2 linked regions of the Homo sapiens genome follow. The protein of the gene in region 1 purifies or fractionates together with the protein of each later gene. This does not show direct contact. Each region holds a gene or a part of one and is shown on either strand. Other genes may lie near its edges.

Region 1 (4,155 bases):
TCCCTTAGACGAGATCCTAAGCAAGGTGACAGAGGTGAGCAACACTCTTCAGACCAAGGTGCAGCTTCTAGACAAGGTGCATGGGCTGGCACTTGGCCATGAGGCCCACCTGCAGCGGCTGCGGGAAGCCCCACCATCCCCGCTCACCTCCCTGGCCCTGCTGGAGGAGTACGTGGACCGACGGCTGCACCGACTCTGGGGGAGCCTGCTGGATGGCTTTGAGCAGAAGCTGCAAGGCGTCCAGAGTGAGTGTGACCTGCGGGTGCAGGAGGTACGGCGGCAATGTGAGGAGGGTCAGGCCGCCAGCCGGAGGCTGCACCAGAGCCTTGATGGCCGGGAGCTGGCCCTGCGCCAGGAGCTGTCACAGCTGGGCAGCCAGCTGCAGGGCCTGAGCGTGTCTGGCAGGGGCAGCTGCTGTGGGCAACTAGCCTTGATCAATGCCCGTATGGATGGCCTTGAGAGGGCCCTGCAGGCAGTCACCGAGACCCAAAGGGGCCCCGGTGCCCCGGCCGGGGATGAGCTTACGAGGCTCTCTGCTGCCATGCTCGAGGGAGGTGTGGACGGGCTGCTTGAGGGTCTGGAGACGCTCAATGGGACAGAGGGTGGAGCAAGGGGATGCTGTCTGAGGTTGGACATGGGGGGGTGGGGAGTGGGCGGCTTTGGGACCATGCTGGAAGAGCGCGTGCAGAGCCTCGAGGAGCGCCTAGCAACATTGGCTGGGGAGCTAAGCCATGACAGCGCCTCTCCGGGCAGGTCAGCTCGGCCCCTTGTACAGACAGAGCTGGCTGTGCTAGAGCAACGGTTGGTCTCACTGGAGACTTCGTGCACCCCGAGCACCACCTCAGCCATCCTGGACAGCCTCGTGGCAGAGGTGAAGGCCTGGCAGAGCCGGAGCGAGGCCCTCCTACGCCAGGTGGCCAGCCACGCAGCACTGCTCCAGCAGCTCAATGGCACTGTGGCCGAGGTCCAGGGACAGCTGGCAGAAGGGACGGGCAGCTCACTTCAAGGCGAGATCACTCTGCTCAAGGTCAATCTGAACTCAGTGAGCAAGTCGCTCACAGGCCTCAGTGACTCTGTCAGCCAGTACTCTGATGCCTTCTTGGCTGCCAACACGTCCCTGGATGAGCGGGAACGCAAGGTGGAAGCCGAAGTCCAGGCCATCCAGGAGCAGGTCAGCAGCCAAGGCTCCAGGCTTCAGGCTGGCCACAGGCAGGTCCTGAACCTGCGTGGGGAGCTGGAGCAACTCAAGGCTGGTGTGGCCAAGGTGGCCAGTGGGCTGAGCCGCTGCCAGGACACAGCCCAGAAACTTCAGCACACAGTGGGACACTTTGACCAGCGGGTGGCACAAGTGGAGGGTGCGTGCAGGAGGCTGGGCCTGCTGGCCGCGGGCCTGGACAGCTTGCCCACTGAGCCACTGAGGCCCAGAGAGGGCCTGTGGAGCCATGTGGACCAGCTGAATCGTACGCTGGCCCAGCACACGCAGGACATTGCCCGCCTCCGGGATGACCTACTGGACTGCCAGGCCCAGCTGGCTGAGCAGGTGCGGCCAGGGCAAGCCAACTAGACAGGCTGGCCAGGACCCAACCCCTAGATCCCACCAACTCGGGGAACATCACCCCAGAGCCCAGCCTTATCCAGCAGCGCCTTCCAGCCTTCCCTGGCTAGCCCAAATGGCACTAAGGAGGCCACTGAGGGAATCCTCCACGTGGCTGTCCCAGCCACCAAAACCCATGCACAGTGCTGCAGAAACTGGACAGTTCCGGACAGCGGTCAAGGCAAGGATGTCATGCTTGAAGGCCAGGGTAGACTTGAGAGAGTTCACATTCCACTGTCAGCAAATCAGTGTCTGGACAGCCAGCTGCAGGGCCTGAGCATGGCTGGCAGGGGCAGCTGCTGTGGCAAACTGGCCTTGATCAGTGTCCGTATGTAAGGCCTTGAGAGGACCCTGCAGGCAGTCAGCACCAGCCTCAGCAACTGTGCAGAGACCTACAGGCCCACAGCCAGTGGCCTGTCCGCATTGCCCTGTGCCCACAAGCAACAGTCCACAGCCCTTGGTGGCTTCTGTTCCTTGTCCCCTCGGCTTCTCTTCGCAGCCATCAGGACTAGGTTTGTGCAGGAAGGTGATGCCCACTGGAACTCTCCTCACACCTGGCAGCTTCATGGATGTTGTATCTGAACTAAGGACCAGAGGCTGCCAGATGTTTCTGGCTCCTCACGTGTCCTTCAGGACAGAACAGAAGCACAAAGACTCAGCCAAGAGTTCTCTTTATTCCCTTTGATCCTCCCCCAAGGTGAGGGCTTAGGCAGCTGTAGAACCCCAGGAAAGAACGGAATCCAGGCAATCTGTTTAGAGACCCCCCACTCCAAATTTATCCTTTTCCTTTCCTTCCCCTAAGATGTTTCCAGGGCCCTCTGGTGCCCACACTGTCCTCTTCCTTCCACTTGGGGGTGGGGAAATCCTTCCTGCGAGGTCAGGGCATTTCTCTACAAAGTGGCCTGAATGAGGCCAGGCCCTGAGAAGGAGCCACCAGCTGGAGGAAAGGGGCTCCAAGCCTTGCTTTTAACACCCCTGCAAAACCCCCACCCTCCCAAGATGTTCACAAAAGGTGAGAAATTCAGGTACGAAACCATCAATGGACAACTTGAAAATGCATGTTCCTCAGGCCTATGCAGTTCCCAGAGACTCTTGACACCGGTCTCTGCTGAGGCTCCCAGCCTCAGTTTCCCCCACAGCAGCACGGGCCCCACTGTGCTGCTCTTCAGGTCCCCACAGCCCTGCCTTTGGTTCCTGGACATTTGGTATTCTGCCCTCCACTCTGGTACTATCAGAGTAGGGCAGGCTCTGGATTAAAGCTTTTAGCCGGTCTAAAGCTACTTTCTTCAAAGACAGTGGGAGGAGAGGTTGCTGGGGCATCAGCCCTGCTTCCCACAGCTCCTTAGGCAAGAGCTTACCCAGCAGCTGTGAGCACCAAGCTGGCCAGCAGAGGCTGGGGGAGGACTTTCAGGCCAACACCTGCCCCAGCTGAGTTTGGGACTGTCCTTAAGCGAGGTCTGGAGAGAGGCAGCGGCAGCAGCCGGACGGGGAGCAGGCCAAGCCGGAACCACAGCCTGCAGGTGTGGGTGTGTGTCATGTGCTGAGATGCCAGGGCACCAGCAAGGGGGATATGTTGGCAGTGATGTCTGGCTTCGGAGGGTACAGTCCTGGCTCCCAGACAAGGGGCGGGGAGAACACTGTGTCCTTCCAGAGGCTGTACCACACTCCCACTGCTGTCACCCTTCACTGAAGCCTCGAGCCTCGGTAGGGCCTCCCTCTTCTCCCTGTCCTATCAAGACTTACAGCAAGGTCCCAGGTTGACAGGGAGACAGATATCAAGGGCATAGAAAACCCTGCAAGGAGGCCTGGCATGGTAGCTCATGCCTGTAATCCCAGCACTTTGGGAGGCCGAGGTGGGCAAATCACTTGAGGTCAGGAGTTCGAGACCAGCCTGGCCAATGTGGTGAAAACCCATCTCTACTAAAAACACGAAAATTAGCCAGGCGTGGTGGTACACGCCTGTAATCCCAGCTACTTGGGAGGCTGAGGCAGGTGAATCGCTTGAACCCGGGAGGCGGAGGTTGCAGTGAGCCGAGAGATCATGCCACTGCACTCCAGCCTGGGCAACAGAACAAGACCCTGTCTCAGGAAAAAAAAAAAAAAAAAAAAAAAAAGAACCCTGCAAGGGCCCAGATGACAAGCTAATTGCCCCAGGACAGTGCCACACTGACGCCTGGAGCAGCTGCAGCTTAGCTGGCAAAAATATGACGGGGAAGATGGGGGAGTCTCTCTAGCTGCCAACCAACCTGCAGCCTCCTCCTTCCCCTTCAGTGGGTTTGCCCCATGACACTCCAATTCCCACCCTCCTATACCCCAGGACACCTAGCCAGTCCTGGGCCGGGCCAGGGAGGAGGAGCCAGCCAGGGCAGGTTCAGTCCAGGGTATCAAGGTCCACAGCAGGCAGTGGCTCCCGCCAGTAGCAGAAGTTACTGTATTCAGGGTTGGCCAGGTCTGTGCTGGGGCCACGGGCCACAGGTGGGAAGAGGAGCTCGACCACTTCACCAAGCCGCTCATACCTACAGGCAGAAGGGGGCCAGCACTGAGCCTGAGCTGCCACCAAA
Region 2 (5,139 bases), on another chromosome or scaffold:
GCTGGAGTGCAGTGGCTATTCACAGGCATGATCACAGCACATTGCTGCCTTCAAATCCTAGCCTCAAGCGATACTCCAGCCTCAGTCTTCTGAGTAGCTAGGACTACAGGCACACAACACCATGCCTGGCTAATTTATTAAAAATTATTTGTAGCGACAAGGTCTTGCTATGCTGTCCAGGCTGGTCTTGAATTCCTGGCCCCAAGTGATCCTCCTGCTTTGACCTCCCAAAATGTTGGGATTACAGGTGTGAGCCACAGCACCCAGCCTGGAGCAGGAATTTTTAATTCTCAACTTCGCAGATGAGGACACTGAAAGAAGTTAAAGGTCACAGATGCAGGAAGGGGCAGAAGAAGAATGCCACCCCAGCTCCTTTCCACTGCCCCATCCAGCACAGCACTCTGTCCAAATACTGCTGGATCATCAGACCATGAGAGCTGACAAAGGCCAGAGGCCCCCTGCAGCTAGGTCCAGCCTGGGCATTCCCAGCATTCGGAGGGCCAGTCCAGCTACCTCCTTCCACTTCCTGTTTCCTTGCTAATGGAAAAGAAAGGATGCTCCTCCTTGCTTTCTAAAGTCCCAGGAGTTCTGAGGTTTAAAAACTTGGTTCAAAGAAAATAAAATACTCTGCACAGCAGGTACTTCTGCTGGAAACTAGATGGTCACTTCCCCTTTTTTTTCTTTCTTTTTTTTTTTTTTTGAGACAGGGTCTTGCTCTGTTGCCCAGGTTGGAGTGCATGGTGATCTTGGCTCACTGCAACCTCTGCCTCTCTGGTTCAAGTGATTCTCTGTGCCTCAGACTCCCAAGTACCTGGAACTACAGGTCTGTGCCACCATGCCCGGCTAATTTTTTTTTTTTATGTTTAGTAGAGATGGGGTTTCACCATGTTGGCCAGGCTGGTCTCCCTACCTCAAGTGATCTGCACACCTCAGGCTCCCAAAGTGTTGCGATTACAGGCATGAGCCACCGCGACCAGTCAGTAACTTTTCATTGTTCCAATTAACTAAGAGGCTTAAAGAACTTAAAAGCTCATTTTTTATAGGACTGATGCTTATCTCAGAAACTGTTAAACTTATGATGAGGGTGGCAGCTATATTCTTATTATTTTTTCCCCCAAAAAGGATTAAAAATAAAATCAATAGTGTTGGTTGTGACAATTATGATGTACTTATAAACTTTTCTTTAAAACATTTGTGAATCTGTACACTTCTCAACAGGACACACTGAAACTGCCTGTTTTATGTTCCCTATACAGTAGCAATGCTCAGGAGTAGTCTGCTTTAATTAGGCCTCAAGGAGTTGAGACCGCCTGCCCTGAACCCCAATGAGCCTGTGGAGCACACCACAGACTTTCTAGTGCTGGTTTGTGTGAGCAAGTGCTTACCTCAGTAAGGCCTTTAATCTTCAAGTACCCACAAAGGTAAGAGTTCCCCGTGTCCACGTGCTGAAAAGAAAGGATACACAGCCTGTCACAAATAGATAAACTTACTAGGGGACATGCAGGAGGGTACTCTGCAAATCCTGTGAGGCCAGACTGGTGGTCAGTGAACACCCAGGGCAGTCCAAGGCTCACCCAGTCTCTGGAATCTTGATAAGTTCTCCCCACACACATGCCTGTTCTGCCAAAGCAAACTGATCCCAAGACCCTCTCAACTTTCTTCAGCTGAATATCATGAGACTGAAGTGTCTTTCTGAAATGGGGTGCCCACTCAAATTCATTTTCTGTACTATCTTCAACACACGTCTCCCGGTCATCTAGAGACCTTGAGCATTGCTGGGCACAGGGCCTCTGTCTCTGCCTGTACACGTGGTGTCATCCCTAACCTCAGGCTTGACTTTCTTTCTAATGTCTTTCAAGCCTTTTTCTATTTCTGTATTGCTCAATCATTGGTCTAGGAGGTCTGCTCCTCTTCTAGTTTTTACACTAAACATCATCCTGCATTATCTCTTTATGAAATGGGCAGACTGTTCAGAAATGGCATCTTATAAAGATTTATGTGGTATAAACTTCAGTTATGAACCAAAATGCCAACCAAAAGTCTGACTATATTGTGAATGTTCACTCTGTGCATTTTATATATGGATGCTGTGTTTCTTAATGAAAAGAGTCAGGAGCCTAAAATAAATAGAAATAACAGGCATAGTAGACTTTGAGGTTTAGCAGTCACCAATTACTGGTTGCTGAGACACTGCCGGATGCCTACCCAACAAACAATTTCCTCCTTTTTCACGCTGGCAGGGTCCAGTTTTTGCTCTGGTACCTACCTACCACGTAAGACTTGGTCAACCTGATGGATCTAAGGCACACAGGTGTCCCTATCCCCTTGCAAGTCATGTATTTAGGGGTGAGTGACCCATTTCTGGCTCATCAGATGTGTAAGTCTCCTGAGTGCATCTGTGAAAAATCCCTGGCTTTTGAAGAGGCGCATGAGGAAGAAATGGCTTTTTTGTCCCCTAGTGGTGACAGTATCCGCATGGAGTGTCCAGTCCTGGGGGAGACATCTAGACCACAGGGGAGAAACAGGCCAGGAAATGCTGAGGATGGTAGTTAGAAAGATGGAAAAAACTGGGCCCATCGTAGGCCTCTGAATTAACCAACCTGAAGCCACGTCACCTCAAAAATCCTCCTGATGTGAGATTTCACCCAAATCTATACAGACTCATTCTGAATAGGGAGTTTCAGATTTCATGACAATTGGATTCACTTACAAGGTAAATCCTTGAATTAAAGCAAACCAAGTACAAGGGTACCTGTGGTACACTGAGATTTTAATGTTAAGTGAGGTCTTATTTCAAGAAATTAGAATAGTTTTGTGGCATTTATCAGATTTGTGAACCTGATTACTTCCAATTATACCATAAATCAAATACTAAGCCATGCTTAAAAACTGTAATGAACTTAGTCAACCAGATGATGTCAGCACCAAAGCAAATGAACTTCAATGAAGCCAAAGTGCCTTCACAGTTTGGTGCTGGTGACAAAGGTATTCCCTGTGAAAACTGCCAAAGCATTTTAAATATCCTCATCTGCTGACCTTGGCACTGGACATTATCTAAAACAGCTAATCCACGCTAACATGGTTCAGCAAAGAACTTTTATTAAAGGACACATAATTCTAACCTGAGTCTTTAAATTTCATGTATGCAATTCTCATTGAATTCAATATAGTTTGGAGTTTCACAGCTGCTGAAAAGTGTATCAGGTGGCAAGGATACTTGCTAATAAGATTAAAAATTGAAATGTAAATTGGCTAACATTTTGCATGGATTATCACATGCTCAAGAATCAGAATTTCAGCTTGGCCTCCATTCAACCAAGCGTCTCTCTACTCTGCCCAAATTGATCTTGATAATGGTTGGTGAACTCAAATACACCACAACGCATACAGCTTTTACCAAACGGCAGGCGAGCATCTCAAGAAAGATAACAGGGCACGTGTTTAGCAAGAAGGTGTCACAGCACAGCTGTGTCCAACGGCTGTTCTTTTAAATATTCCTTTCACAGCGACCAGGGCTCCCTTCTACTGCTGGCTTCTTAGATGGCAGAGGAGGAAAGAGGAGTCACAGTAAGTGCGGGGTGGAGAGGAGACCCAGTCAGAAACTCACAAAGGTTTGAGGAACTCTTTACACTAGAATCACAGAAAAGAAAGTACTCCAAAACAACAACAACAACAAAAACACAAGAAAAGATGCACAACAGCACAGTCATTATAGAAATTCAAATCAAGACTACAGTGAGAGACCACTTCAAAAACACTAGGATGGCTACAACAAAAAAGATGAACAGTGAGTGTTGGCGGGGATGTGGAGAAACTGGAACCCTCACCCACTGCTGGTGGAAATGTAAAACAATGCAGGGCCAGTTTCTCAAAATGTTAAAACCCAGTTACCATGTGACCCAGCAATTGCACTCCCAGGTAGTTATCTACCAAAGTGAAATATACATCCACATAAAAACTTGTACATAAATGTTCATAGCAGTATTATTCATAGTAGCCAGAAGTGGAAACAACCCAAATGTCCATCAACTGATCACTGTATAAACAAAATGTTGTATATCCATTCAATGGACAATTGTTACAATGAACAATGCAAAATAAAAAGGAATATAAGTGCTGATACATATTACCATATGGATGAACCTTGAGGACATTATGCTAAGTGAAGGAAGCCAATCTCAAAAGGACAAATACTATGTGATTATATGAAATGTCCAGAATAGACAAACAACAACAAAAATAGATGAGCAGTTGCCTAGGATTGGAGTGGGGGTTATGGCTAAGGGTTACATACAAGGTTTCCTTTTGGGGTGATGAAAATATTCTAAAATTAGGTTGTGGTGGTGGTTAAACAACTGTGAATATACTAAAAACTATTGAATTGTACACCTTAAATAAGTGAATTCTATCTAAATAAAGATACAAAAAGAAAGAAAGAAAACAAAACAAAACAAACAAAAAGAAGCTGAGTTATAAAAGGCAGAAGTATTTTAAGTCTAAGAAGGCTGTGTCTGACAAACTAGTCCTGGCTGAAAAACCAGATGATGGGGCAATTCACATGCCACTGACTAGTCGTGATGATGACCAAGCAGCTCACCAATCCAGATGTAGGGCAGCATTCATTGGCATGACCACCACCCCCACCATCAGACATCTTACTCAAGTGGCTCCCAGCCATCCACCAGGTTTCTGCTCTGGGCTGCCTGAGACCTATCAGCCCTGCCCCAACTCAACCACTGCTTCCCCTGGTTCATGATTCTCCTTCTGAAAGGAGCTCAGAAGTGATACCCTAATGACAGAAGGGAGCAGCAGTTGCTGCAGTAGCCAAAGCAGACTCCCCTTTGACGCCTGGCTATCTTGCCAATTGTCCCCTACTACATCAGAAACCATCAAACTGAACAACAGGGACAAATCCAAGATCATCCCAAACGTGACCCACCCAGGGATCTCACCTCCAGAATTCTATGACTAGGTGCAAAACAAACCGAAAAACCCCTGTACCTTCATACTCGACTCTCACATTTTAAGAAGAGGATCACTACATTAGGCATACAGTTATGAAGACAAAAATATTTCAGCCACAATCGTATTTCCATTATAATAACTATCGTGGCTCATGATAGAACTTTACAGCCCAAA

Evidence for each region. Proteins that work in one complex are often made in the same cells at the same time.
Region 2: the proteins of EMILIN3 (region 1) and GID4 purify together in Homo sapiens (co-immunoprecipitation; 2 studies listed by BioGRID and IntAct, with this or other methods). This does not show direct contact.

The regions. Positions count from the first base shown.
Region 1 is NC_000020.11:41,358,677-41,362,831, reverse strand, and holds the end of EMILIN3 (EMILIN-3 precursor), read left to right. Parts: coding exon 1-1,564; 3' UTR 1,565-2,870; downstream 2,871-4,155. Other genes in the region: phosphatidate phosphatase LPIN3, read right to left, coding at 3,966-4,110.
Region 2 is NC_000017.11:18,041,453-18,046,591, reverse strand, and holds part of GID4 (glucose-induced degradation protein 4 homolog), read right to left. Parts: intron 1,446-5,139; coding exon 1,386-1,445; intron 1-1,385.